Homo sapiens: one gene and its partners. The protein of the gene in region 1 purifies or fractionates together with the protein of each later gene. This does not show direct contact. Each region holds a gene or a part of one and is shown on either strand. Other genes may lie near its edges. The genes, in order: ABCB1, PLEKHM2, FBXO15, UBA7 and POPDC2.

What was found.
Region 2: the proteins of ABCB1 (region 1) and PLEKHM2 fractionate together in Homo sapiens (co-fractionation; one large-scale study listed by BioGRID). This does not show direct contact.
Region 3: the proteins of ABCB1 (region 1) and FBXO15 purify together in Homo sapiens (affinity purification with western blotting; one study listed by BioGRID). This does not show direct contact.
Region 4: the proteins of ABCB1 (region 1) and UBA7 purify together in Homo sapiens (affinity purification with western blotting, with the first as the bait; one study listed by BioGRID). This does not show direct contact.
Region 5: the proteins of ABCB1 (region 1) and POPDC2 purify together in Homo sapiens (co-immunoprecipitation; one large-scale study listed by IntAct). This does not show direct contact.

The regions. Positions count from the first base shown.
Region 1 is NC_000007.14:87,551,269-87,557,302, forward strand, and holds part of ABCB1 (ATP-dependent translocase ABCB1), read right to left. Parts: intron 2,665-6,034; coding exon 2,493-2,664; intron 1-2,492. UniProt on the Homo sapiens protein: Translocates drugs and phospholipids across the membrane. Catalyzes the flop of phospholipids from the cytoplasmic to the exoplasmic leaflet of the apical membrane.
Region 2 is NC_000001.11:15,721,104-15,727,137, forward strand, and holds part of PLEKHM2 (pleckstrin homology domain-containing family M member 2), read left to right. Parts: intron 1-225; coding exon 226-285; intron 286-4,213; coding exon 4,214-4,442; intron 4,443-5,910; coding exon 5,911-6,034. UniProt on the Homo sapiens protein: Plays a role in lysosomes movement and localization at the cell periphery acting as an effector of ARL8B.
Region 3 is NC_000018.10:74,077,334-74,083,367, reverse strand, and holds part of FBXO15 (F-box only protein 15), read left to right. Parts: intron 1-1,316; coding exon 1,317-1,441; intron 1,442-6,034. UniProt on the Homo sapiens protein: Substrate-recognition component of the SCF (SKP1-CUL1-F-box protein)-type E3 ubiquitin ligase complex.
Region 4 is NC_000003.12:49,805,298-49,810,953, reverse strand, and holds part of UBA7 (ubiquitin-like modifier-activating enzyme 7), read left to right. Parts: intron 1-121; coding exon 122-202; intron 203-281; coding exon 282-437; intron 438-525; coding exon 526-691; intron 692-770; coding exon 771-976; intron 977-1,074; coding exon 1,075-1,139; intron 1,140-1,228; coding exon 1,229-1,412; intron 1,413-1,489; coding exon 1,490-1,564; intron 1,565-1,794; coding exon 1,795-1,978; intron 1,979-2,485; coding exon 2,486-2,568; intron 2,569-2,841; coding exon 2,842-2,934; intron 2,935-3,026; coding exon 3,027-3,218; intron 3,219-4,708; exon of another isoform or gene 4,709-4,788; coding exon 4,789-4,881; intron 4,882-4,956; coding exon 4,957-5,057; intron 5,058-5,516; coding exon 5,517-5,646; 3' UTR 5,647-5,656. UniProt on the Homo sapiens protein: E1-activating enzyme that catalyzes the covalent conjugation of the ubiquitin-like protein product of ISG15 to additional interferon stimulated proteins (ISGs) as well as other cellular proteins such as P53 in a process termed protein ISGylation.
Region 5 is NC_000003.12:119,642,542-119,648,575, reverse strand, and holds part of POPDC2 (popeye domain-containing protein 2), read left to right. Parts: coding exon 1-414; 3' UTR 415-457; intron 458-5,126; coding exon of another isoform or gene 5,127-5,200; exon of another isoform or gene 5,201-5,209; intron 5,210-6,014; coding exon of another isoform or gene 6,015-6,034. UniProt on the Homo sapiens protein: Important for the maintenance of cardiac function.

The DNA of each region.
Region 1 (6,034 bases):
AGCCTGCAAAAGTGCTGGGATCACAGGCATGGGCCACCACACCCAGCCAAGAGTAAATTTCAAATGTGTCACCTCAAAAGGTGTCAAGTGAGGAGATAGATATGTTAATTAGCTTGCTCTGATCACTCCACATTTTGTGTGTATGTGTGTGTATACATAAACATCACATTGTATTCCGTAAGTGTAATGCAATTATGATTTGTCAATTAAAAATAGCATAAAATTTTTTTAAAAAAATTTTAAGACAAGGTCTTGCTTTGTTGCCCAGCCTGGACTGCAGTGGTGCAATCTTGGCTCACTGCAACTTCAACCTCTGGGTTCAGACAACCCTCTCACCTCAGTCTCCGAAGTAGCTGGGACTACAGACAAGTGCCACCATATCTGGCTAATTAAAAAAAAAAATTATAGAGATGAGATCTCACTATGTTGCCCATACTAAAAATATTTTGGAAATATAAATACTTTTCAATTTAGAATGCAGAATTAGTCTTACTTGCTCAATAAACAATGATTTAAATTTCACAGGGCTAGAATATTATAATAGGATATTTTTATATTTCTTCAATGTCTAGTTTTTTTTTTATTTAGATCATCAGTAAGGTAAAGTGGAAATAAATGCTAGCAGAGGAGTCAGAAGACCCAGTTCTGAATCCTAAATTAGTAATAACTAGTTATATGTTGTTAGGCCATTCTCTTAGAATCTTTGGCTTCAATTTCTTCATTGGCAAAAACAGGCAAGATTCTATCTGTTCTCCCTACCCAGCAATCATAGAGATGTTGTATCATGATAAAACAGTGTATATGAACATTTTTTGTTAATTATAAAGCACACACACCTAAGACACTGATCCTTTATCAGGTTGTCTTTTTTGCCACAAGGCCGTGTTCTCTTTAGGCCTTTTGTTTTTTTGTTTTGTGCAAATCAGTTTCTTATTGGTAAAGACTTAACTGTGTTTCTCTTTGGGGTTGATGAGAATTAATGTCATTATTCATTTTTTCTAAATCACATGGAATTATATTGCTCAATAATTTACACAGAAGGAACTTTGCTAAGTGATTCTATATTCATTATCTCAGTTAGTCCTCAAAACACGCTGAAAGTTAGGGTTCATTCCTGTCATATCATTTGGCAGAAGAGGTAGCAGAGGCTTGAAAAGTTTAGCTGGCTGCCCTAAATCATACAGCTAATAAGTGACAAAGCTGCCATTTGAATCAAGTTGGTCCGATATCAAACCCCACACTCCCTATTTTGGATGCCTCCAGTGTGTGAAGTATATTCATGCCCAGTGAACACTGGATTTAAACTGCTTATCTCAATCACAGTTAAACAGAAAACATCTGTTATGACAACCAAGGATCACCCACAGCATCACTATACTAAAAAAAAAAAACTTCATGGGAAAAGCCATTCCCCACTGAGCAATGTTGGATAAGGCAAATTTGAAAAAAAAAGAAAAAGAAGTGATTATTGAATCCATATTACAAATCTGGCTCCTGAAAAAGGGAATTGTTTTAAGGGATTCTACAAAATATCATCTCTCATTGCCTCAATCTATTTCTGCTTGGCCTACGAAAAAGGAACTAAGTGACTCTTCTAACAGTGTATTTTATTAGATCCAGATATGAATTGAGTTTGGTTTGCAAATTATTTCATTGTCTTTAAAATAAAAGAGGATAACATTAAATGGCAAGACTTCTGTGCTTGCACAAAGGTCTATAATGCAGAAAACTTCCAAACAATCTTTTAGGAAGAGGAACAATTTATACTTCCATAATTTGTGAGGTGGATTAGCTGCCATTCGAAATAATTTGAAAAGAAGTCAAAATGTGTATTTTGCCATTTTTGTGAATAGTAAATCAGAAAATAAAAGTGAAGTGTTTAGCAACAAGTTTGGCACAAATAATCTCAACAAATAAAAGTTCATGCTATTGAGATTGCTAACGTTAATATTATTTAGGCTACAGGATAAATTGTGCAAGATATCTGCAAAAACAAACAAGCAAATAAAAGAAAAAACTGGTTGTCGGATGCATCTAATTTTTTTCCACTTTTTTTTTTTTTTTTTTTTTTTGAGACAGTCTTGCTGTGTCACCCAGGCTGCGGTGCAGTGGCGCAATCTCAGGTCACTGCAAGCTCCGCCTCCCGGGTTAACGCCATTCTCTTGCCTCAGCCTCCTGAGTAGCTGGGACTACAGGCGCCCGCCACCACGCCCGGCTAATTTTTTGTATTTTTTGTAGAGACGGGGTTTCACCATGTTAGCCAGGATGGTCTCGATCTCCTGACCTCGTGATCTGCCTGCCTCGGCCTCCCAAAGTGCTGGGATTACAGGTGTGAGCCACCGTGCCTGGCCTTCCACTTTTTAACCTAGTAGTGCATATGTCTGTAGTATTCAACAGTTGTTCAAAATATATTCTTCTAAAGTCAAGCCAACATTACTGGATTTCATTGGCATTTTATAATAATGGTTCATTTCTCAATGTAAACCACTTACAGTGAGTACTTGTCCAATAGAATATTCCCCTGAGAGGACCAAGGTGGTCCCATACCAGAAGGCCAGAGCATAAGATGCATAGATCAGCAGGAAAGCAGCACCTATAGAAATATTGGCTGTAATAGCTTTCTTTATCCCAATTCTTTTAGCTTCTTCTAAATTTTTGTTGTACCTGAGAAAAAGAACAAAAATGATCACATATACATTTTATGAAAACATGTCGATATAGCATGATAGTTACAGAGTGGCTAGGATGTGTTCAGTCCTGTGATATACATGCATTTTGTCCTGCTGCTCATACATTGACCCTATATAGTAGTACTGTTTTACTCCCTTTTTGCAGAAGAAGAAACTGACATTTATAGAGATTAACTTATTTGTGGGGGAGTCTTCTAAAATTTCCTTCTCTGGCTTTAGCAATAGCAAATAAGTGAAGCAATATTTAGCAAACTTCTAAAACTTACATTGTTTCATACACAAGACAAAGTAAAAGCCATGGAAAAAACCTGTGTCTTTCCTTCAAAATCTGCATGCCTCTTTAATTAATAAAATGGAGAGATAATGTTAGAAAGTACTAAAAAAAAAAAAAAGGGACAGTCATTTAAATCTCTGAACATTAAGGAAGTTTGGAGACAGTTTGCTCTCTGTCCTGCCTTCCTCTAGGACTGTCGGAATGACCAACTGAGAGGTTACATGTGTGAGAGCATTTTGAGAGTTCTGAATTGCCATGTAATACTTTTTACATTTAAATAAGCTGTACAATTTATCTTACTTCCGTAGACATTTATTTTAAAAATCACTGACCTACAAAAATTATTTGGCTTACAGGTTTATAAAAGCACATCATTATTCATCAGCATTCCCTCTCTTCCTTCTCCTTTCTACATATTGACTATGTGTCCTTCCCTCTATTAATGCTCCCAACACTTGTCATGCCATAGCTGCCAGCTGCTGAACTAACAGGATCTGACCTGGTGGCTTGGGCCATCCACGGCTTCTGACTAACTCAAGGGCTGAGAAAAATTAAATTATTAGCATATCTATAGCCCTGAACCCATTCATAGCACAAAGGCCTACCCTACATTAACCAAACCTGGTGAGGACCCATTAATACTTCTTAGAGCAAATATAGGAAATTGTACAAAAGGGGCAAAAATGAGCAAATGAAAAAAAATCGAAAAACAATGTTGGAGTCACTGACAGATTTTATTTCTGCAGTTCTAATGACTTACAGGTTATTCCCAACTGATAATTCAAATATTTTTTAAACCCTCAGAGGGTGGTCAATTTTTGACGGTAAAGTTAAAGGAGATGATGTCTATAACTCGACCTTCATTTGAAAGGAACAGAGAAGACTACTCTGTTTAAGAGGATAGCTATGGAGATAAGCTAATGGAGCCCAGAGTTAAAGAAAAATAAGGAATTTTGCAAATGTAGAACCAAGGTAAAAGGATTAGAGAAACAGGACAGATTGCCTTAAATCTGTCTGTATTTTCTTAATCGCAACTCCCTGCAGAACCTAGAGCATTGCCTTGGATAGAGGAGGAGCTAATAATTGTTGAAATTCATGAACTTACTTCCATATAAAAGTCATACTTTAAGGTCTTTGATCCATAAATTCACAACTATATAAATATTATATAGCATTATATTAATTTCCTTTGGAGAACTTGTTCCATTAGCATGTACAGCAGAGCTCAAGCACTGTCCAGATATGAACATGCATTGTTTCTTGCTTTCATGACTACTTTAACTAGGTACATTACAGAGTTACAAAAGCATGCCAAGTGAAATTTACATCACTACCGTGTTCACTAAAGATGAAATTTAAACAGAACTTCATAGTGACAACATAGCAACACATCATTAGTTTCTACCCCCCAAAATGTAAATCCTCAACTTGCCAGTTATCATCTGAACAGAAAAATTATTTTTGAGAAACGTTTCAATTATTTATATACACATATGCACACACACACAACACACAGACACATACATATCTCTCACTTTATGAGTTGATCTGAGGTAAAAGCTACCACTGGGCATAACTTACATAAGAATATATTTAAGGACATTTAATACATATGTACTATACTCTGTTATCTCCTTTATTTCAGTTCTCGCTTACCAAGACTAACGTAGAAACCAGTCTGATGTTGTCCTATGCAGCCAGAGGAAACATTTGCACAGAAGCACAAGGAAGAAAATCATTTAGACATCAGAAAGGAGAAATAAAGGAAAGAAGGGGGCAAAGGGAAATGAGATATAAACAATACTCCTTTTCCATAAGCTCTTTGTTGTTTTTCCATACAAATGCCATACATAAAACTAGATATTAAAATCATCCATTCATCAAAGGCTTTAGTACAGAAATGGTCATGAAAGTAGGAATGACTAAAAGAGACTAAAGTTATATAACAAAACCATTGGTATGTAGGAAATATGACTCTTCTTAAATATTGTGAAAATATTTATCAATAATGCAAGTAACTACTTTAAGAATAAGGAACAATTTTGGTTAAGCCAACAGAAATAAATATTAATAGATAAATATATTTTCAAGGCACATAAAAGAGAGAAAAATATTTTTAAGTGAAAAGGAACAAAACTATTCTATACGATTGAATGGAATTTATTTTAACTTCTGGTTAAATTTCCATTCAAAGAGAGCCAGCTTCCCTCCTGCACTGCTAATTTGAAGAGAAAGCCAGATTAAGACCTCAATTACTTTATGTAGAAGCAGAGAAGGGAAGGAGAAGAACAGGAAAGAAAACTGATTATGTCTGGTCTAAGAATAGTCATCAATTCTACTTTCAAGTTATATCCCAAATCTAGGTACCTGTCACCCCTCTCCTGCCTCTGCTCCAGATCAGGGAGATGCTCTGGCCTGGACCATTCTGCCGGCCTCCCCACTGGTCTCCCTGCTTCCACCCTTTGACTTCTCGCATCCATTCATGAGACCCATTACAGACAAACAATCTGAAAACATAACGTGGATAGTCATTCCTCTTTTTAACACCCTCAACCACTCCCCTGTGCCCTTAGAATACAATCCTAACTCTTCATCATGGCCCATCATCCCCACATTCTGGCCCCTGCCCACCCCAATCTCCCCTCATTCAACTGAGCTTCAGTCATGCAAGCCTTATGACGTTTCCTAGAACATACTAAATTCTTGGCCACCCCAGGAAACTTGGAAGACTCTTCTTCAAACCCATCCCATCTCTGTTCCCACCATGGCTTGCTTTTTCTCATCCCTCAGGTCTCAGCTGAGATGAAACCTCCTCAAAGAGGCCTGCCCCAACCACCGTATTTAAAGTTAACTTGACCATTCATCATCCTCACACTCTTTGATTCTTTCAGATCACATTTTTAAATCAATATTTTTATTTTTTTCTTTGACGATTCCTTATATTTCTTCCTCCCTTTCTCCATTCCTTCCATTTTTATCCATTTTACTATTTTGACTGAAGATCACAAAATAACCTCTGTTTCTGATTCACAGCTGAAAACCTAGAGCCCTAGCTTTGTTTAGAACTTTA
Region 2 (6,034 bases), on another chromosome or scaffold:
ACAGGTCTTTCCAGCTGGTTGGAGGCTCCTGGGCCAGCGCCTGAGCTGAGAGGCAGTCAGGGCCCTAGTAAGTTTCCCCAAGGTTGTTGGATACAATGTAGAAAGTTGAAGTTTTCCTCTCCTATTTTCTCCCCATGTCTCCCACCCCATTTCCCCTCCCCTCCCTCCAGTCATCCTTCCACTGCCTGTGTTTCTAATCTTCAGTTTTGTCCCTCGTTTTTGTAGATTATGATTTTGGAGATGTGTTTCCAGCAGTGCCGTCTGTACCCAGCACAGACTGGGAAGGTGGGCCAGAGTCCGCTGTTACCCTCTTTTCCTGTTTTGCAATGTTTCCATGCCAAGCTTGCTGCATGTATCAAATCAGCTCCTTATTATTTATAATAATATCCATAATCATAATAAAGCCAAGTTTGGTGTTCTAATAGATGGAATTCTGCAGTGGGAAAACTCAACCTCTAGCCATAGGCAAATCCCTTCTCCCAGTGCAGGGCTCCTGCCTTTGCTCAGTGGCCTTTCGGAGTCACTAAGTGGCTGCATTTCGGGGGATACAGGGTCACCCTTCCTGATTCCAGTGCCAGCTGATGCTCTCGGGGTGTGTAGGGCCTGACCCAGTGAACCAAGACTTGTTCTGGAAAACCATGCCTTTAAACATGCGGGTTGTAAGCTCCTGCGGGTCAGATGAGCATCGAAGAGAAAGAGCTTGATTCTTTCAGTCTGTTCCTAATGGCTTCCTCTTGGGTGTTTTGGAGTGGTTGAGGTCCAAGTCAGGAAACTGCCCAGGTACAGCTGAAACTTCCTACAGACAGAATCTCTTTGAAGCTTTAAAGCAGATTAAAAGGAAATCTGCCAGCCCTCCCACCCTGTCTGCTGGGCAGTAGCAGTGCCTGGGCATTTTTCTGCCTGAAATTCCACTTCATAAATTCACAAAGCTATTCCCAGGTTGCCACGATTACTCAAAGCAAAGGCTATGTTGCCAATAAGGTGAATGTTTCCCCCTTAAATCTGAGGCCATAGCAGATCCCTGTTATTTTACTTTATGTTATTTTATTTTACTTTTTGAGACGGAGTCTCGCTCTGTTGCTCAGGCTGGAGTGCAGTGGTGTGATCTTGGCTTACTGTAACCTCCACCTCCCGGGTTCAAGCAATTCTCCTGCCTCAGCCTCCCAAGTAGCTGGGATTACAGGTGTGTGCCACCACGCCCGGCTAATTTTTGTATTTTTAGTAGAGACAGGGTTTCACCATGTTGGCCAGGCTGGTCTCAAACTCCTGACCTCAGGTGATCCACCCCACCTCATCCTCTCAAAGTGTGGGATTACAGGCATGAACCACTGCACCTGGTCCAAATCCCTGTTATTAAAGAGCCTCCTACCCTCTGGGCCACTTCCAGCCTGGAACAGGGGAGGTGAGGGAACCTGGCCTCTGAACAGGGGAGGTGAGAACTGCCACACCCTGAGGATGAGGGGCACGTGGCTCTCCCCGCATTATTAGAGACGTGATTGCTGAGTAATGGGTGACAGGTGATCCGTTCCCAGATAATGTGAGTATGAAATACCTTAACTCTGTGAGAAATAAGATGTGGCATTGGGAAAAATAAACTATGACACTTGGCCAAGAGTAGCATTGAAGGGTCCCCTGTTTGAGTTAAATTAGCTTGGATTCCAGAATTCCATCATAACATCATGTACCCTCTTAGCCCCTCTTCTTGCAGCACACATGCTGGATATTGTTTTTTTTTCCCTCCGATTCTAACAACTAACCCCCCTCCTGACACGCCTGCTGCAGTCACTTGACAAGCAGGGCCTGACCTTCCTCTACAGCCTTTCAGAGCTCCCTGCGGCCTGAGAACTAACAGCCCAGTTGCACTGCTTGCCTCAGGGCAGGGTGAGATTTCTGGAGTTCCTGGAGCAGGATTCCTGAGCTCACTCTGGCAGCTCACCCGGGGAGGCTCTGTCTTCTCCTTGGACCTGGAGGAAGGCAGGACTTGGGGCAGCTCCAAACTCTGAGCCTGGGGTGGCCTTCCCCTGGTCTTTGGCTTATTTACAGAGCTGGTGGGCATGCGGGCCTTGACACCCACCACATCTCATGATCTGCCCACTCACCTCTCAGGGCTCCTCTTGGGTGCAACTGCGTGTGCTGAGGAGAATCACAGGAGCCGGAGCAAGAACACATGGGCTTGGCAGGAGCCTGCTTTGGGACCGAGAGACGCGGTTTTCTGTATCTTAGAACTTAGGCTCTGAGATCCCCGGAAATCTGGAAAAAGTCCCCGATGTTGCTGGTCTTTTCTGGCAGAGCTACTCATTGCCTTTAGCCTCCTCTTTTGTCCTTATATTAAAAGACAGCAGACTTAAAAAAAAAAAAAAAGGGCCAGGCTCACACCTGTAATCCCAGCACTTTGAGAGGCTGAGGCTGGAGGATCGCCTGAGCCCAGGAGTTTGAGACCAACCTGGGCAACACAGGGGGACCCCGTCTCTACTAAAAATATAAAAATTAGCCAGGCTTGGTGGTGCACGCCTATAGTCCCAGCTACTCTGTGGGCTGAGGCAGGGCAGGAGGATCACTTGAACCCAGGAGGTCGAGGCTACAGTGAGCTGTGATTGCGCCACTGCGCTCCAGTCCGAGCGACACAGCGAGACCCTGTCTCAAAAAAAAAAAAAAAAAAAAAAAAAGGACGGTGTGCTGCATCAGCAGACAGCTGCCCTGTGGCTTCCAAGGGCACTAAGTTGACAGCTGGTTGGGCCCCCAGTGGGGCTGTGGGGTGCATGTTTGCCTCTTTTCTTCCGGGCAGACAGCGGCCAGCAAGATGAGCATTGGCCGGCAAATAGAGCACGACCAGCCATGGCCCTTGCCATTGACCCTCACCCAGGCAGTTTCACCAGCTGGGCCTCAGCTCTCTGCTTGGGTGGCTCCCATCTGCCACTGGCCGTATGGGCTGTGTGCTTCACCTGCCCGTGCTCCCTCTCCTGCCCTGTTCCAGTAACCAGGGGCAGATGGCTGGGTGGGGCGGGATGTCCAAGCCAGCTCCCCTCTCGGGGGCCGTGTCAGGGTATGAGTCAGAAAGGACCAGTCAGTGAGCTGACACTTGAATGAAATGGAGTTCTCGGCCGGGCACGGTGGCTCACGCCTGTAATCCCAGCATTTTGGGAGGCCGAGGCGGGCAGATCACGAGGTCAGGAGATCGAGACCATCCTGGCCAACATGGTGAAACCCCAGCTCTACTAAAAATACAAAAATTAGCTGGGCATGGTGGCGCATGCCTGTAATCCTAGCTACTCGGGAGGCTAAGGCAGGAGAATCACTTGAACCCGGGAGTTGGAGGTTGTAGTGAGCCGGGCTCGCGCCACTGCGCTTCAGCCTGGCGACAGAGAGAGACTCCGTCTCAAAAAAAAAAAAAAAGAAAGAAATGGAGTTCTCAGCACCACCCTTGCAGGGGCACCTGGTCCTGCCCCCGAGGAGTGTGTAGGGTCAGGGGTGCTGGGGAGAAGCAGCCTGGGGGGCGGCCTCTCGGACCCCTGTCTTTGCCCCTTCGCACCTTGCTCTCATTGCCCTGCTCTGTCATCTTGTCTCTACTCTGTGCTCTGGGCATTTCCCTCTGCCCCATGGTTCCCACCCCTTGGGCTCCCATCCTGTCTCCTAGCCTCTGCCCCCACTCTGCACCCCTCACTTTCTCTGCTGTCTTCCTCCATTCTTCTCCCTTTGTGTTCCTTTTACCTCTGCAAGGGACCCTTCAGAGGACTTTGGGCACCTCTCAGCCCTACAAGTGGGGTATGGGGCTAACGGGGCTGCTGGGTACCCCTGTAGCGTCCTGGCAGGAAGGCTCTGAGGGTAACCTAAGAGGCGTGCAGCCTGGCTCCTCTCTAGGGCTCCCAGCCACCCATGGAGGCCTCGAAGTCACCATTCCTATGGGACTTAAGCCTGGAGCTTGAGCCTGGAGGCTGCTTCACCGCGGGGGCCCTTAACACAAACTCAGCCAAATTGTTGTGAGCTCCGGAGGCCCCAGGGGTGGTGGAGATGGTGTTCCTTCCAAGTTGCTCCTAAAGTACAAAACCCCATGTCCTGTTAGGTTGTGGCTTCTACTCGAAATGGGGCCACCCCTGTCAGGTTTCCCTGGGAGGAACTGGCCAGCCTGCCTCCCTCCTGGGCTAACGCATGCTCTGGGGGTCGGGGACCCCGGGGGGTGCCTGACAGGGTGTCTCCTGCTTCCTTGTCCTCCCAGATGGAGACCTCACAGACACGGTCAGTGGTCCCCGCTCCACAGCCTCCGACCTGACCAGCAGCAAGGCCTCCACCAGGAGCCCCACCCAGCGCCAGAACCCCTTCAACGAGGAGCCGGCAGAGACTGTGTCCTCCTCTGACACCACCCCCGTGCACACCACCTCTCAGGAGAAGGAGGAGGCCCAGGCCCTGGACCCGCCGGATGCCTGCACGGAGCTCGAGGTCATCAGGTCAGCAGGGAGGGGCCCAGAAAGGAGCTGAGGTCCTGGGGTCCAACCTGTCCACTCCCAGCATCAGCTGTTCATCCAGGGCAGACCGGGACACCCCCTGAGGGCAGTTGCATGCCTTCCTGGAAACCCTTCCCACCTCTAGGAGGTTCTTTGAGCAAGAGGAAGTGGAGGCCTGTCCTAGTCAGCTCGGCTGCTGGAACAAAGCACCGCAGACAGGCGGCTTCCACAACAGACATTCTTTCTCACAGCTCTGGAGCCTACAGTCCGAGGTCAGGGTGCCGGTGTGGCCAGCCTCTGATGAGGGATTCACAGATGTCCCTCTTCTCGCTGTGTTGTGGCGGGGAGTGGAGAGAGAGCTCTCTAGGGTCCCTTTTATGAGGGTGCTGATCCCATTCCTGAGGATCCCACCCTCAGGACCTCATCACCCCCCACCCCCTGATACCATCACATTGGGAGTTAGGATTTCAACACAGGAATCTGGAGGGGACACACACATTCACTCCATTGTAGGGCTCAAGCCCTTGGAAGCAGGTGGCACAGGCAGCGACCGTGGCTGGTGTCTGGGGCCATGTCCAGGCTGCCAGGGCGTTTGCTGGGTCTGCCTAAGATCAGAAAGCACCTTCAGGCTGTACTTCTTCCCAAGGGAGTTCTTGGAAGTTAAGATACAATTTCTGAGATTCATTGAAAGAAAAGTATCTTTGTCATATGGGCAGGACATGGAAAGGAAGGACATGGTGGGTGGCCAGCAGGGACTGTCAACCAGAGCCTCCCCGGCTCCCTGACCTCCCCGACCCCCTCTTAAAACTTCACACTGACTAAGAGGAGAAGCCCTGTGTGCGTGTCAGACTGCCCAGGCTTGCTGGCCTGAGGCGGGGGATTGCTCCCCAGTGACTGGAGCCAGGAGGCCACCCCATGGGCTGGTTCCAGTCCACAGCAGCATCATGCTCAGACCTGGGGTCCCTTAGCTAAGCCCGCTCCAGCCAACCTGGAACCAGAGTGGGACCCGGAGCGTGAGCCCAGAAAGCGCTGAGTGCTTTCTGGGTGATTCCTCCATGATGATGCCTGAGGGAAGTGAGGTCAGCTCGGGATCCACATCCGAAGGGGGGCTGAGTGGAGGGGGCATTGCCTGACCAGCCATGGCCTGTTTTTCTTTCCTAGAGTGCAGCTAGCTCAGCTGTTCCATTAGGAGGAATTCAGTAGACCCACTCTGGGGTTCCTCTGGCTGCAGCCATCTGTGCCCAGCCCATGCTACCCCCACCCCGCCCCTGCCAGCAAAGGGGGTGCCTCGGGGCCTGAGCCACTGTTGTCCTCTGACCCAGTGCCTCCACCCAGCACTGCCTAGGACCACTGACGCACTAGCTGTGCCCTCAGAGGCTACATGGCCAGCATTGCCACCGTGACCCAGCCTGGTTTTCCTCAGCACTGGACTACTCAGGGGTTAACACTCTCCCCGTCGTTACTGTCCCAGGGTCACCAAGAAGAAGAAAATTGGCAAGAAGAAAAAGAGCAGATCAGATGAGGAGGCAAGTCCACTCCACCCCGCCTGCAGCCAGAAGAAATGTGCCAAGCAGGGGGACGGTGACAGCCGCAAC
Region 3 (6,034 bases), on another chromosome or scaffold:
TTCCTCCCTGCTTCCGTCGAGCCCTGCTGAGGTGACGAGGTGATGAGGTGACAGCAGAGCTGTTGCCTGGGAAGGGTCCGTGTCATTTGGCATTTCTTCCTATGCCTGGGGAGAGTGGAAGGGAAGCTACACAGCTCTTGCTAATTACTCAGCATTAGAGAGGAAAATGTGGGCTGCCTCTGTCCTTGGAACAGAAGTAAGACGTGGAGAAACCAGCAGTGTGGCATCTGGGCAAGGAGCTCCCGTTTGCGGGGCTGGAAACCCTGCCTCTGCGTCCTCTTTCACTTAAAGCATATTACTGGGTCACAAAAGAGGCCCCAGGCAAAGTGTGGGCTTTAACCTTCTGGTGACACTGAAGTTGGAGAACACTGTATAACATTTCTAGAGCAGAGCTTTGGCTCCCAAGGCAGCTTGGCTTTGGTTTTATTTTGTCTCATGAAATAACCAGGCCAGGGCTGGAGAACATTTGCTCTTTTCCATGATTTTTCTGTTTGCTTTGCCCTGTGACTTGCATCTTCCCTTTGTTCAGACTTCCATCTCTGGAGAATTCTCGGGTATGAGTTGTGTTGCTGTCGGTTGGTTTGTGTGAGAAGCAACTGATGGTCGCTTCTCAGGGTGCGTTCAGACAGAACCAGGAAGCTTGTGTCTGTGTGAGACCGAGTGGTGCTGCGGCTCTCCCTGCCACAAGAGGCCTGTGGCAGCAGGGCTAGTGTGCTGTGTGGGTGCGAGGGCTCCTCCGTGTGGCCAGGCTGCCAGTAGCTGGCTTGGAGCTGGCAGCAGAGGGCCAGGGTTTGGCCTCCAGCTAGGTGGGCATGTGCACGGACTCTCACTCAGTTACAAGCATGTGCAGAGGTGTTGGTTTATTTCATGTGAGTTTCTTCCACTCCTCTTCATGTTCGCCTGCTCTCCAGCCCCTTGTTTCTTTGCCATTTCTGCACCTGCTTTCTTCAGCTGTGTAATTCTAGATATCGGTTTCCAACACTGTTGGCTTACCCACATCAGAAGAACCCTTTCCTCCTTCAGCGACCACCTTTCCATCAGTGACAGGTGGCTATCCAGGCTCGCCTCAGCCAGCTTCCCCTGACTCACCTTTGACATCACCTTTCTGGGCACTTGTTAATGTTTCTGCCTCTGGGACACAGATGCATCACTCTGGCCTCAAGCCAGAGGCTGGGATTGCTGTGCCCATGTTGCCCTCATCGCTGAGGCCAGGGCTTACCAGGGTGAGGTATCCTTATAAAGTCGCCGACTGAACGTGCTTGGTTTGTCATCTTGCACTGGAAGACAGTGATTGAAACAATCTTATATCTTTTCAGGAAATATTGAAAATGGACATGTGAAGCTCATTGTTATACATTTAAAAAATAACAGAGAACACCTACCTCTTATTGGAAAAGTTGGCCTCTCGTGGAAAACTGATATTTTTGATGGCTGTATAAAGGTAAAAACAGAACCGTTTTCTTTTCTTCAAGTAACTTGATTTCTATATAATAAAAAGTCTGTTTATATATATAAATTATATTGTCATATATGTATGATGTTTCTTTTATAGTTCTGGATTTATTGTTCTGGTTTCTGAAGGTTGGTGCACATTCTGTTAGCCATTGACAGCCAGTGGATTCACTCATGAGATGCTTATTGAGTACCTTTCATTTGTCACTGAGTATGGTGGAGTTGGAGGGGCAGGTAGTCTGCAGCAGCATTTCAGAACACTGTTGATCACAGTCCCCTACTCTCTCAAAGCCCCTCTGTTTTGTGGAAAGAGAGTGGAACTGAAGGTTGGACCACGCAGGCAGCATCTACTCAAAACATCTTGATCATCCATGTACCAATTTAAAACTTATTGCAGTTATAAATTCTTAGTCCAGGATATAGGGATTTCCTTGAACTGTTAAATAAAGATTAGCCACATGGGTGGGAGAGTTGACTTAGTGGTTGGGAAGTAGCAGGGAAGGAGGGAGGAGGAGGAAGAGGAGAAAGATGTTCTCACAGTTTTGCTTTCTTCTGTCCTTGTGCCCATGGCTGCTCCTGGTTCTTGTCACTCTCCAACTTTATTTTATGGGATGAACAAGATTTTCATTGTCCCAGGGACCAGTGGGATCAATCTCCTGTGACTGCGGGGGCCTCCTGTAACATGGCTTTATACGGCGCTATGCATGCGCACCTTGTTAGAACTATTAATGATGACGACTGGGACCAAGAGTGGTGTTATCATGAAGCACTGTCCCTTGAGCCACTTGATATTTGATGCAATGAGATATTTTACAAATCCTATTTATTCATAGCAAATGTTTAAGTTTTGGTAAAAATGATGTTTATCACACACCATGTTGTTTCATGCCTTTAAGAGCACAGACCTACCTTCTTTCTTTTTCTTCAGATTTCAATAAAGCCTATAATAAAAGTAGGTACTAAGATAAAATATTCACGTCAAAATAGACCTTGAGGATCAAGAAAGGCAGAATGTGAATGTGACTGTCTTTTAAAGGGTCAGCATAATTTTTAAAAATAATTTGTTCTGTGTTTTCTGGTAGTCCAGAGAAAGATGAGAGCAGTCATTTAGTTCTCATTGGGAGAAAAAAGGGAAATGTAGTAATTATACAAAGAAAGCTTTATCCCAGTTCTGATCATTAAAAACAAAATTTCCAATGGGACTTTATGTAGGGCAGACTAAGCTACATAATGGACCCACCCTGAATAGCATCTTAGCAGCAGATGCACTCACAGATTTCTCATAGAAGTTCTCAGAGAAGCTGAAGATACGGCTTCAAAATTGGACCTTTACATGAGCTCCAAGCAGTGATTCTGTAGGTTGCTAAACCAATGTGACTGAGGTGCACAGGTGTTTAGAAAAACAGCTTGATCTGAAAGCAGGATTTTGAGTTTTTAAAGTAGAGAATGGATTGCATGTCCCTGGACAGTTTTCCCCATAAATTCCTTCTCTCAGATGGGCTTTGGGAAAAGATAGCAGATAGCTCAAAAGCTTGTACCTTCTCCCTTGGGCCTGGAGGGTAGATGTGGTTTATTTTCTGTTTGCCTTTTATGCTCTTGGATTCAGTATTAAGACTAAGCCGTCCTCAGAATTCCCAAAAGAATAAAAAGTCAGATCAGTGATGTCATATGTCTTGTATTTGCTGTGCAGCTCAGGTATTTCTCTCCAGGAATCTGATCACCCTAAGAATAGTGAAATGATAACATTTATTTTAAGAAATTGCTTGGAAGGAGTTAAAAACTTTTTTTTTAAAGCATGGACATAAGCTTAGAAAGTTTCTTAGGTACATATGACTTTTAAAAAAATGTAAAATAAAAACCCGGCTCCTTCTGGAAATTGTAGACACAACCTCTGGTGAGGAGCTTCTACTAAATAGTTTACGATGCCTGTCAGAGCATAGGCTACTGAGAAAGTACGTCACCCAAATACGATGCTGGTGGAAGGACAAAGAAGTGAGAAAATATTAATGATAATGACGGAGGATGCTGCCTAGTTGTGTCGTGTTGGTTGAAGTGATGTGCAGTCGTGAAAGGACATCTGATGTCCTTGGGACCTGCTGTTCCCATGAGAATCTCCGTCTTCCTCCAACCTCAGAGTTGAGTGACCTCCAACACTTACTGGTGTGGAGGTAATTCAGGTGGAAAGTATCTTTAGTTTGAGTTCCTAGAGCAAAAACTCAACAGATCATAAGTTTATGTGGTAAATTATTAAACTTTAAAATTCTTTAAAAATCACATTCTAAGTAGGTCAGTTTTTTATTCTTTTTTTAAAAAACTCAAAAGATACTGATAATTATTACAATAATATTATGAATGAGCTGTATTTTAATTGTGGTAAAATAAACATAAAATTTACCACCTTCACCACTTGACTTCTATATTTCAGTGGCTTACATACCTTCTCATTGTTGTATAACCATCACTACTGTCTAATCTCCAGAACTTTTCATTTAAAGATGCTTTCAGTGGCCACGTGTTAGTACTGAATCCATGCAGGACGCTTGCTCTGTAAGTGGTTACCATGCTATTTTACAAAGTCATGTTGAAACAGCTAGGCTACCCTCTCAAGGTAACCTTGCTGCAGTCTTCAGCATAAGTCAAGTAATCAAAGTGAAATACTCTCCTGCTCTGTCTCCTCCCAGCGCCTATCAGAATTTCAGATGGATGGATTTTCTTTTGGTGAGGCTTTTCCCGTATGTTTCTTTTATGTTTTTCTTTCACTCCTTGGCATTTTTGATGTTATTTTAATGTTACTTCTAAATCTATATGGAGATTGGCATCAATTTTTATTTAGACTAGATATTTCAGTGTAGTTCTGTGGTTCTGCTTTATGTAAGAACAGCTGAGTTCAGTAGAGCCTGCTGTGGGTACATCGTGGGTCAGCATGTTGTGGGTGGCCGTGGCCCATGAGAAAGGCATCCTGGCCACTTCACTTGACAAGCACTGCAGCTGCATGGGTGATTAAGGCTGCTGGTGCTGATACAACCGAAAATCGCAGGAAGAACAGAACAGTCCCACACGTGCGAGTGCTGCACTCTCCCCAGACACTGAGTTTTGAGCCTGGCGTAGTTCACTGGTCCATGGGAGCGCAGGTGAGGAGAGACTTCCTCCTGCAAGGAGGGTGAGGTCTGCCGACTGCTCAGATGTGTGCCTCCTGGACGTTCAGGGTGAGAGGGACTGATTTAGGAGAGGGATGATTGAAAACAAGTTCTGTGAGGAGAAAGAGGAAAGGGGCCAGTGGGAGGAAGGCTCATGAGAGGTTCTGACATGCATCCCCCCCCAGAAGGTTGGGAGTGATTTATTCTGGAGAAGGAACCCAGTGGAGAAAGAGATGCTTCGGACAGGATGGGAAATAAGGAGCGAGCTTCTAGAGGTGAGGGGCAGCTGGCCCGGGGAGGGGTGCGAGACCCACTGTGCCGCTGCGGCTGGTGCTGAGGCGGGCCTCTTCCTAGCTGGCTGTCCTGCCTGGGGTGGGCTAGCACCCGGGGACAGGAGGGACAGTGACTGGGGGGCATTGGAAAGGCTGCTGGGGCAGGTCGGGGGGGGGCCTTGAAACCCTCAGGAAAGAATTTGGATTTTGGTGTATCTGTGGATGTTGTTAAAGAGTTTGATGTGCCTATCGTGTGCTAGGCCATGTTTTAGGTTAGGAGGGAATTGGAGAATGCTGGACTTTGAGAACTAGGAGGGCTTCAGAGGAGAGTCAGCTCCCAGCTCTTGATCTGGCAGCAGAGGAGGTGGGAGAGCAGAAAGACTGAGACACCCACCGACGGCTTAGGGCTGTGAGCAGCGTCCTCACCAAGGAGCCCTTGTGCCCCACCGGCCGCTCCTTCCTGACTTCTGCCAGGGTTTCTCCTCCTCAACCTTCTCGCAGGTGATGGGACCCAGGGCTCCACCTCCTTCCTCCCATAGGATCTAACCACCATCTCTATGCTGGTGGGTTTGGTGAGGTTGTAAGTAACACAGTCAAGTGACTGCTAGCCCAGTGGCTAAGGTCGTGCAGGGTGGTGGGGTGTGGAAGATGGATGCACCATGCAGTCCCACCTGCTGTGTTATCTCAGAGGTGCTTAGACCTCAGAGCCTTCTCTCTAAAACGGCCACAGTGGTAATGCCCATTCCAGGAGGGCTCCGGCTGCCTGCCAAAGACAGAGCCATCTGCTGGCCCTCAGTATTGGCTTCAACTCCCCCATTCTCAGCCTCAGTGAGGCTGCAGTGTAGGGTGTTTTTTCTTATTCCCCACCTGCTCCCCACTCTGGTGTCCTCCTCGCAGCCCAGGCTCTGTGTGTGGTGGTCCCTGTCATGCAGGAAGCAGTGGGTGCTGTGGAACAGGCTGTGTGGGGCTGGTCGCTGCTGTTCCAGGACCACTGCAGCCGATTGCCTGGGAAAGGCATCAGGGAGCAAGGTCAGGTGTCTGAGGGGTTCCTGGGTGGTCTCACTGTGTAGCTCATCTGATGTGAGGGGCCTTAGGCTCTGGCGTGCACTCTCCCATCAGGGATTAGTGTGTTTCATGCTGGCTGCTTCTTCACCCATCTCTTCTTTCCTGGTG
Region 4 (5,656 bases), on another chromosome or scaffold:
GTCCAAAATCAGGACTAGGGGAGAAGCATGAGGAATGCCCTCCAGGTCCTGATTCAGAAAACTCAGTATAAGAAGGAGATGCAGGCCAGTAGCCATCACTGACCCCGTCTCTGTCCCCTAGAGAGGCAGCCGCTATGATGGGCAAATTGCAGTGTTTGGGGCTGGTTTTCAGGAGAAACTGAGACGCCAGCACTACCTCCTGGTGAGCTGTGGGGTGAGACTGGGGGTGCCTTTGGGAGAGCCAGCCCAGCCCCTCTGGCTAAGGCTGTTCCTGCCAACAGGTGGGCGCTGGTGCCATTGGTTGTGAGCTGCTCAAAGTCTTTGCCCTAGTGGGACTGGGGGCCGGGAACAGCGGGGGCTTGACTGTTGTTGACATGGACCACATAGAGCGCTCCAATCTCAGCCGTCAGTTCCTCTTCAGGTCCCAGGACGTTGGTGTGAGTGCTGACCCCTCTCCACACTCCTGCATCCCAGACCGTCCTCCCATACAGCTTCCCACCCAACATCTTCCTGCCTTCTTCCCAGAGACCCAAGGCAGAGGTGGCTGCAGCAGCTGCCCGGGGCCTGAACCCAGACTTACAGGTGATCCCGCTCACCTACCCACTGGATCCCACCACAGAGCACATCTATGGGGATAACTTTTTCTCCCGTGTGGATGGTGTGGCTGCTGCCCTGGACAGTTTCCAGGCCCGTGAGTGCTTGACTTCGGAGGTCAGTCCCTTGCCCACAGCTGTGCCAGTCCCACTTCTGACCCACTGCTCCCTTGCCAGGGCGCTATGTGGCTGCTCGTTGCACCCACTATCTGAAGCCACTGCTGGAGGCAGGCACATCGGGCACCTGGGGCAGTGCTACAGTATTCATGCCACATGTGACTGAGGCCTACAGAGCCCCTGCCTCAGCTGCAGCTTCTGAGGATGCCCCCTACCCTGTCTGTACCGTGCGGTACTTCCCTAGCACAGCCGAGCACACCCTGCAGGTAGGAAGCACCCTGGAGACTCCCACCCCACCCAGCTCAGCCCTCAGCTGCAGACCTGTTCTCCACCTGATACCTCATTCTTCCTCCCTCCTCCACAGTGGGCCCGGCATGAGTTTGAAGAACTCTTCCGACTGTCTGCAGAGACCATCAACCACCACCAACAGTAAGGCCACCAACAGAGGCAGATGGGAGTCCAGGGCTCCAAGCATGAGTCTGCAGGACTCAGTCTCACACTTCCTCCTCTCTCTGCAGGGCACACACTTCCCTGGCAGACATGGATGAGCCACAGACACTCACCTTACTGAAGCCAGTGCTTGGGGTCCTGAGAGTGCGTCCACAGAACTGGCAAGACTGTGTGGCGTGGGCTCTTGGCCACTGGAAACTCTGCTTTCATTATGGCATCAAACAGCTGCTGAGGCACTTCCCACCTAATAAAGTGTGTGGCTAGGGGTTGGGACGCTGGGGGCTCAGGGGGACCAGACTGAGCCCAGCAGCTTCTACTTACCTACCTAGGTGCTTGAGGATGGAACTCCCTTCTGGTCAGGTCCCAAACAGTGTCCCCAGCCCTTGGAGTTTGACACCAACCAAGTGAGTGGGATTCTGTAGGGAGCTCCAAGATAGAGATGTGGCCCCTCAGAGCAGAGGTAGGCATTTCTGCATTCTGCAGAGATGCACAGATGCCCAGAGAGAGCCATGCTTGTGCATATATGGGTGTCTACATGTGAGGCAAAGGCAGGCACTCAAACAGATCCACAAATGGACAGTGACCCCCACCCCATGCACCCATGCCTCTGTTCCTGCTCTTGGTCTGGCTGCAGGACACACACCTCCTCTACGTACTGGCAGCTGCCAACCTGTATGCCCAGATGCATGGGCTGCCTGGCTCACAGGACTGGACTGCACTCAGGGAGCTGCTGAAGCTGCTGCCACAGCCTGACCCCCAACAGATGGCCCCCATCTTTGCTAGTAATCTAGAGCTGGCTTCGGCTTCTGCTGAGTTTGGTGAGGCTCCTGGCCCTGGCCCCTCATGCTGTCTTTCAAAGGCCTGAACCTGTCCTGTCCTCAGCCTGTGCTGCAGAAGGAAGATAGGGCCTAGGGGATCTACAGCCAATTTGCTACCTCTCAGGCCTCCTAACCTCACTCCTCCATAGTTTCAGGCTTATCCTCTGGTCCCTCAGTAGGTCTTCTCCCTGCTGCCTACCCCACATCCCAGTTCTTGTGGCAGATTCTTGGCAAAATAAATAAGTAAATAAATAAAGTCCATTGGTTCCTGGGGAGTGTCTAGCTATGGCCTGCAGGTGAGGACAGGGTCACAGAGGTCATGAGCACACATGGGTGAAGACTGGGGCTTCTAGAGGGGAGATTGTAGCATTAATTAAGGGGGCTTCTTGATTTGATCAGGGAATAGTAAGTGACAGGCTTGGCAAAGACCAAGAATAGGCACAGGGCTCCAAGAAGAGTGCAGGAGACAGGGGCTAAGGACTGCCTCAACATCCCCTCCCCTGACAGGCCCTGAGCAGCAGAAGGAACTGAACAAAGCCCTGGAAGTCTGGAGTGTGGGCCCTCCCCTGAAGCCTCTGATGTTTGAGAAGGTGGGTGCCCAAGTGGCAGTGAGGAGTGGGGCTGGGGAGTTTGTGGAGAAAGGTCAGGAGCTAATAAGGTAGTTTTGGAGCCCCTTGGCCTGAATTCTCCCAGCAAGACCCTGGAAGCAGCTCACATTCCCTGAACCTCAGCCTGTCTGATCAAGAGGAGATGTGGGGCAACCCCCCGACAGAACTGTGTGGAGACTTGTGCAGTGACACGCAGTGGGCCACGGTGAGGGGCACAGCTGCAGTGTTAACACTACTTTGACTTGGGCCTTACAGGATGATGACAGCAACTTCCATGTGGACTTTGTGGTAGCGGCAGCTAGCCTGAGATGTCAGAACTACGGGATTCCACCGGTCAACCGTGCCCAGGTAACCCCACCCCTTGAGGCTTGGGCCTGGAGGTGGAGGGCAAACCCTGGCCCTACGCCTTGGGCCCAGACCAAATCTCTTGTCCTTGGCAGAGCAAGCGAATTGTGGGCCAGATTATCCCAGCCATTGCCACCACTACAGCAGCTGTGGCAGGCCTGTTGGGCCTGGAGCTGTATAAGGTGGTGAGTGGGCCACGGCCTCGTAGTGCCTTTCGCCACAGCTACCTACATCTGGCTGAAAACTACCTCATCCGCTATATGCCTTTTGCCCCAGCCATCCAGACGGTGAGCCCATGATACCCCACCCTTAGCCCTACTAGGCCTGGGTTTCCCCTGCACCTGCCCATACAGGCCCCAATCTAGCTGCCGGCTCTCACTGAAACTCAGACTGTGCAGAAGTCCTGAAGACTCCCTCCAGCCCTCTTCCTGCTATGAAGCCAGGCTGGGACCTGTCAGACACAGGAAGCAGCCGTCAGCCATCCCCACCCCCAATCCTCCAAAGCCCAGGATCTGGGGGAGCTGCAGCTTTAACTCATTAGTGGAGCCAGACATCCCCCACAGTCCCCTCCTTCCTTGGAGTACCCCTGAGGGGTAGGTAGTGGGGAGGGGACCAGGGCATCAGCCCCAGAAAGAGTCTAGCTTCCCCCTGCATGGTACGGGGGCCCTGGCCTACCTCCTACAAGCTGAGTTAAAAGGTAATAGGCTTGCCACTAGAGGTGTGGGGTCTGCAGCCCTGAGTGTATTTGTGTCACAGTTGTGAGTGCAACTGGGGTCTGGGCATCCCCGGAGTGTGGGTATGGAAGGAGCAAGTTTGCACATCTGTGCATCAGATGGGAGTGCAGGGCTCCCATCTTCCTGTGTCCTCAATGTGGGCATGCATGGAGATGCATGTGGGCACACATGTGTGTGTTCCTGGGCTTGTGGGCATTTGTGTTCCTGTGACTGCAGCGCTGTGAATGCCTCCAGCCTTGTGCCCAGGCTCTGCAGTTGGCATTTCCTTGGGGCAAGGATGAGGGTAGAAGGAATGCCCTCATGAGGGGAGAGGGCAGAGGTCATGGGCCAGCACTGGGTTTCTGCTGAGCAGCCTGGGGTCCCTCTGGACTAGCACACAGAGCCCCTTTGTGAGGCACCCTGCCTCTAACCAGCATACAGGCTGCCTTTGTCCACAGAGTGAAGCAGGTGAAGGAGAAGCCCCCATCTCACCTCTAGCCTAGTCTCAGCTTGACCCCAGTGTGTTTTCTCAGGGGCTGATAAGCACCCCCTGTCCTGGTCTCTAGATACCTGCCAGCCATCCTTCTGTCCTTAGCTCTAGGTCCCAGAACCCCAAGACTCTTGGAAGGAAGGAAGGGACAGGAGGAGGAAGCCTCTATGCATTGTATCCCTGCTGGGGTCTCTGGGACAGTGGGGCCCTGGTGGTCACTGTGCCCTTTGCCCCTGTGTCCCAATGAGTAGCCCAAGGCACTGGCAGTACATACAAGATTGGGGGACAGGATGTGCCCCCCAGCTCCCAGCCTTGTCTTTGAGGAACAAGCAGCTTTATCAGAGGCTGCAGGGGCCCTGCTCTGGGTTTCCTCAGGAAGCACCACCCCCTCATCCCCCACTCTCACAACTGGCCCATGTGATGGATCGTCTGTTTCCCTGTGCGGGCCCCATAGCCCCATTTCCTGTGCTGGCCCCGGCCTGGACGGGGAGGGGGCTGAGACTCTGGGCCCAGATCCCACCTCCCCCCCACCCCCCACCCCCTGGCTCCTGTTTCCTGCTAGTCCAGCTCTTCCCCTAGGAAAGGCTGCTGGTAACTGGGATGGGGGTTGGGGGGAGGTAAGAAGTCTCTGACTCCTCCTCTACCTCATCCCAGTTCCATCACCTGAAGTGGACCTCTTGGGACCGTCTGAAGGTACCAGCTGGGCAGCCTGAGAGGACCCTGGAGTCGCTGCTGGCTCATCTTCAGGTGTGCCCTGTTGCTACCCCAACCCCCAGGCTCAGCCCAGCCCGGCCCAGCTGGTGTCTGACCTTTCTCCTCTAGGAGCAGCACGGGTTGAGGGTGAGGATCCTGCTGCACGGCTCAGCCCTGCTCTATGCGGCCGGATGGTCACCTGAAAAGCAGGCCCAGCACCTGCCCCTCAGGTGAGCCCACTTGGGGCTTTAGACAGGCCCCACCAGTCCCTGGAGGCTGGGGCTAGGGACCACACTGCCTTTTGTCTTCCCAGCCCCATTCTGGGCCCCTCACACCTTCCCAAGCATTCTTTCCCCAAATGGAGCCAGCAAACAGGCTGGAGGTGGGGTGAGGGCCGAGAGCCTGAGGAGGAGTCTTCAGGAGCTGCCTATTTGGCCAGCCCCATGGGCTCCCCACATGCTGCACAGCCCCCCTTTCACAGCCCACTCCCAAGGGACCCATAGCTTCCTGCCTCCTGCTTGCCTCATCAGCTGCTCCTAAAATAGTTTCAGATGTTTCCTGTCTTGAGCAGCTCCTGCTCCTGGCTTGGGCTCCTGACGGCCTGCCAGCACCCTCTCTAGTCCATGCCAGGCTGCCTTCTGCTTGCCATGGCTCACCTCTCCAATCTCCCCTAAACCCACCCCTACCAGGGTGACAGAACTGGTTCAGCAGCTGACAGGCCAGGCACCTGCTCCTGGGCAGCGGGTGTTGGTGCTAGAGCTGAGCTGTGAGGGTGACGACGAGGACACTGCCTTCCCACCTCTGCACTATGAGCTGTGACAAGGCAGCC
Region 5 (6,034 bases), on another chromosome or scaffold:
CTCTTCTCGGCTCTGCTGGGATATGACATCTCAGAGAAGCTCTACACTCTCAATGACAAGCTCTTTGCTAAGTTTGGGCTGCGCTTTGACATCCGCCTTCCCAGCCTCTACCATGTCCTGGGTCCCACTGCTGCAGATGCTGGACCAGAGTCCGAGAAGGGTGATGAGGAAGTCTGTGAGCCAGCTGTGTCCCCTCCTCAGGCCACACCCACCTCTCTCCAGCAAACACCCCCTTGTTCTACCCCTCCAGCTACCACCAACTTTCCTGCACCTCCTACCCGGGCCAGGTTGTCCAGGCCAGACAGTGGCATACTGGGTGAGGACTCCACCAGTCTGGTGCTGGAGGATTTTGAGGAGGTGTCAGGATCAGAATCGTTTATGGATTATAGGAGTGATGGGGAGTACATGAGGTGAAGGGAGAACTAACATGGGCACAGCCACCGGCTCAGGATCCTATGTAAGTACTCAGAAGGCAGCCGCTGCACATTCCTGTCAATGGCTGGCCTTAACTCAGCTTGTTAGGGCAAAAAAAATCATTCGTGGAACATTTCCTCTTAGAGGACTCACAGAAAGTGGCATTAACCCAACTTTGAAGATAGCAACTCACTCCGGGTGCATGCAAGGCATGAAGGGATTTTAAAAACTCATTCGTTATTAACTTGATTGCATTTTAGAAAGTGGGCTGGTTGATACGTTGAGCAGGAAGGTAGATTGCTGTTTTTTTGCAAGTTTATTCTAATAGCTGAGGCCACAGCTGGGGCTTAAGGGGCTTTTATTTGTGGCATGCATTTTAAAAGAAAAAGAATGTGGCAGGGTTCTAATTCTGATTGCTTGTCTTTCCTGATACAGAGCCCGTCCTGGAAAGCAGTTGTTATTTAGCCTAGACTGGGCAGGCATCTCTGTTAAAACTGCATATTTTAAAGAGGATTGTGATTATGAGCTAATAGCTCGGGGAGGAAAATGTCCTCATCTTGCTTTCCTCTCACCCAGTGGAGAATGTGTTTGTTGATCACACAGACAGAGGACTAGATACTGCTATGATTAAATGTTACTATGATCAGATAGGTATATGGCAGCCTGGCTTTCCCCAGTCACCCACACCTGTGGGAGGTAGGATGTGCATAAATCCTGGAGGGCCTAACAGTGCGTGCAGGATTTCCCTCACAGAATTTCCCTCCCAGAGAGTCTACAAGAAAGGCTGTGCCCAGTGGTTCTGGGAAATTGCTCTCATGTTTCCCTGGCTGCCCTCATAATACTGTGATGTTTTTCTCTGTAACTCCACCCAACCATGATGTAGGCCTGAATTTCCTGAGGAAAATCCCATTGTTCCCAATTTGGAAGGCGCCTCCCATGGTTCTTCAGAAAGCACCAATAAATTACCTGAGAAACTAGCCCAGTGAGGAAGGCCTCCAGAGTACATGAAATGAATGAGTGAATGTTTGTCTATTTTGAAAAACAGGTTATATAAATGATGAAAGAGGCCATAGAGATGACTGATGAAAGGTTAGAGATTTAGTTTTGTAGATATGGAATTTACAATCTCCTGTGTTACCAGCATCCTTAGAACCATAGTTCAGCTCATTCTGAGGTAATTCCAAGGATCAATCTAACACCCCAGATCACTTTGTTGAGTTCCCCGAAGTGTGCATTGACAACTCTGATCACTCCTTTCCCTCTGTGCAGCTGTTCGCCTTCCTACTCGTTCATCCTGCATCCACGCATGCTCCTTATGTCCTATGGATCCCTCTTGGTCCAACTTGCCCATCCACCTATACACTCTCTCTTCGACTCACAGCAGCTCTCTGTTTTCTCATGTTGTTCTTCCTGGTTTTCTTCTCTTTTCTTGGTTCTATTTTTCTCTTCTTTCTTCTCCAATTTCTTCTCAGTCCTTGATTGCCTCAGTTTGATGTTCTGTTCTTTTTTCCTTTTCTTTCTTGAGACAGGGTCTCACTCTGTCACTCAGGATGGAGTGCAGTGGCATGATGTCGGCTCACTGCAATCTCTACCTCCAAAAGCTCAAGCGATCCTCCCATCCCAGCCTCCCAAGTAACAGGGATTACAGGCACATGTCGCTGTGCCTGGATAATGTTTAATTTTTAAATTTTTTTGTAGAGACAAACTCTCCCCATGTTGCCCAGGTTGTTCTCGAACTCCTGGGCTCAAATAATCCTCCTGCCTTGGTCTCCCGAAGTGTTAGGATTACAGGCATGAGCCACCATGCCTGGCCAGTTTGCTGCTCTTAAGTGTCCATTTTCTATGTCTTCTCAGTTCATTTCTCCCTCTTCACTTGTCTCTTGTTTTCTTCCATTTTATTGTTCATATATTTATCTCTCCTATTACCTCCTTTTTTCTTTTTCCCACCTTTTTTGCCTTGCTGTATCTATTCTTCCTCCTAAACACCCTGTACCCCCATCTTATTAGTTTTTAATCCTAACTCTTCCAAAGATCAGTACTTTTCCCTCTGCCTATAAAGAAAACCATTCAAGTGAAGGTGTAAAATCCCCAGCTTTAGGAATGTTTTCCAAACATCAGGAGGCAGGCAGCATGGTAAATGAGAAAGAGGCCAGGACTGGGAGTCCAAAGTCCTGGCTTCTATGTCTGGCTTTGCTACTAATCAAATATGTGACTTTTTGCAAACCATACCTCACTAAACCTTACTTTCTTCATTTGAGCGTGTTGGACCAGCTGTCCCCAGGAACCCCCTTGGATTGATCTGAGAAGGCAAGGATAAGTTTTTCAAAGGAAGAAAAGAGGAGTAGTCAGTCCGCAGTACAGTAGACACAAGCCCCAGGACATCTGAGTGTCTTTCAGCAAGAACTCTCTGTGATATTTCACTACAATTTCTCTGGCACCTTGGGACTCTCCTCAGCCCTTGTGGTGGTGGGTCTTGTTTAACTAGCAGTTCCCTCCATTCTATGCCTGTGAAGAATCTATCACCTACCATGTGATTACAGTGCAGATTTTTTTTTCCTTTTCCTTTTCTTTTTCTTTCTTTTTTTTTTTTTTTTTGTTTGAGACGGAGTCTCGCTTTGTCACCCAGGCTGCAGCGCAGTGGCGCGATCTCGGCTCACTGCAAGCTCCGCCTCCCGGGTTCACCGCCATTCTCCTGCCTCAGCCTCCCGAGTAGCTGGGACTATAGGCGCCCGCCACCGTGCCTGGCTAATTTTTTCTATTTTTAGTAGAGACAGGGTTTCACCGTGTTAGCCAGGATGGTCTCCATCTCCTGACGTGGTGATCCGCCCGCCTCGGGCTCCCAAAGTGCTGGGATTACGGGCGTGAGCCACTGCGCCCGGCCTACAGTGCGGATATTTTATGAGAGAGGAGATCACAACTCAGTCCCCAAGCCCTCAACCCTTAATACATACTATCGTATGAAATGCCTCTTTCCAAATTCAGCCTTTTCTAAAACTCAAGATGAGAAAACTGCTGATGAGGCTCACTTTCTAAAATACCGGAATTTGCAATATAGGGAGAATAGTTTTTCATGTTTCTTTGTTTAAGCAATAGAGAGAAAGGAAACTTATGTCGTTTACTTTTCAGGCCATAGAGGTTTTCAGAACAACTTGAAAACATGATCAAATTAGCCAAACTTCTGATAGTTTTCAATGTAGTCTGTGATCATGGGATAATTTAGCCTCAGTTCTTTTTCTGAAATTGTGTTTTGAATGTTTGATTTGACTTATTTACCATCAAACTTGCTATAAGGTTATTACTCTAATGAATAAGCATATTCCCTTAATTGGGAGCAATTTACTATTATTTCTTTCATAAAGTAGGGCACCATTCACCATCTATTTCCTGGCTCTTTAGTTATCAAAATGTTAAGCTCATTGCTATTCATCCCGGCACAGCACTTATATGAGAGGCATGAAGCTGGCTGAATTCTGCATCATTAGGAATGACACAGCCTCATCACATTGACACCAGTGCTTGTCTCTCACACCAATCCAAATTAAGACCAACTGAAAATAGTCAGAGTTTCCTCTGGAGCTCCTTTTTGAAGAGACATATGTTTTTTAGTCTGGTGGTACCCAAAATTGAACAAAAAATGGGTGCTGCTTCTCTTAATAGGCAAAACTATGCTGCAGGATAATGTATTCATGCAGGGTCTTCCAGCCAGACCCCAAATCATCCCTCCCTTCACTAGAATTTTTCTGTTTAATTCGATGGCCACTCTCCACAGGGATCCATTCTGTGTCTTATTACAGGAGATGCTCAATGAATGAGGGACTTATCTTCTAGAAATGCAGCTCCGAGGTAGTCTGTTGAGTGAAATAATGAATCCATTATCACAAAATAAATTGAAAGCTGTCTGACATTTGGACAATTTTTATTTTGTTTCACATTGTTCTGAAAACTATACTGTTTCTTTTCTCCCTATTATTTAAATAAGCAAATGATGAACAGATTACAAAATTGAGGACACTCGAGGTAAGGGAAGGAGCCCCTCGACAGGAGGATCAGGACATAGTACCAAGGGCAAGAGAAACGATTCAATAAACACTATTTACTATATATTTTAGGCATGGTTCTAGGTAATCACATGATAAGTAGTTGAAAGAACTGAAAATGTTTTATCTGCAAGAAAAGGGCAAGTGTAATATCTTCAAATTTTAGAAAGAATGTAAATTAGAATTTGACTTAATTTGGTGTAGTTCTTGTGGGCAGAAATTGAATTGAATAGGCTGAAAGTTATAAGAAGGATTTTAGCTCAGTATTGATACTGGATTGCTCATGGGTGGTGAGAGTTACTCATCACTGGAAGAGTTCAAGCAGGGGCCATAAGAAATCTCAGGGATTTTATAAGGTGATTCATGCTCTGGGAAAAGGATGCCTTGGATTATTGTGTCAGGGTAACTTCTAACTCTAGGATTCTGTGTTTCTAAGATCTGGACTCTAGTCTTGCCACTCACCTGCCATCAAGAACATGTTCCTCATCTGCAGGACAGGACCAAGATGGCTCTGTCTACCTTACCGGGTTGCTGTGAGGCGTGATTGTGATAAAATACATAAAGGCAGTTTTTAAGCTCTGAAGCACTAGTTAAATGTGTAGCGTATTTTAAGATTCTGTTGTATGTACAATTGTTTAGCAGTCTCTCTCTCTTTCTTTCTCTTTCTTTTATCAGAGATAGATGATTTTCCCTCTTATTTCCACCAGTTTGGCTTTTCAGGGAAGGTGGCAGCTGGCAGAATCCCCTGACAACAAAAGGTACAGCAAAAAGTGGAGGCCTAAAGAAAACATGTGCTAGCTCTTTAGCCCCTGAATAGCTAAGTCACATGTCAGCCTGCTCTCCTTCATCTGTTTGGGAGGAGGCAGATTAGAGTCACACTGTCATCATGCTCTTCCCCTCAGAAGCAGCTGTAAGGTTTTTGGTAGCTGTCAGTGCTAGCAAACAGTGCTTTTCTCACAGAACTACTGGAAAGAGTCCTGGCTCGGAAAACTTGCTCTTGAAAGTGGCACGGCCAGAGCAGGGGTCTCTAGAGGGTCGTGCCACCTCTACCTGCCACAGGTTCCATTGTCGGTCAGGTAAGTTAGAGGCAGCAGTTCCCCACCTGCCCTCTGGATAACAGCAGCCTGGGGCTGCTCCTGAGTCATGTTTCCACTTCTGTCTTACAGGCCTCATTTTCCTACCCATCTTTCTGTAAAAATGAAAGTCAGGAGTCTTATGAAACTTACCATTATTCAATACAGGCTTTTGGTTTTTTTCTTTAAATTAGATAGGGTTAGGTAAGAAGTAGAGTTCTATAGAACGTTCATAGGAAGCAACAAAAGTTGATCTCTTGGTCTCTACAATAGGAGAGGATTGGGCTAGATACCTTCAAAGCTGACTTGCCCTAATATTCTAGTATGAAATGATTCGAAGGTACACCTGCCCCTATCATGTCAGGCAGTGAGTACAGTTAAAACATTGGGAATTGGTAAAGGAAAGAAAAAAACTGAAAAGAACCCTTTGAAGTTAGACAAACTGTCCAGAGACATAGTGCTAAAATCCTCCCTCTTTTTCTTTCCACAGCTTCTAGAATTCCTCTCCAG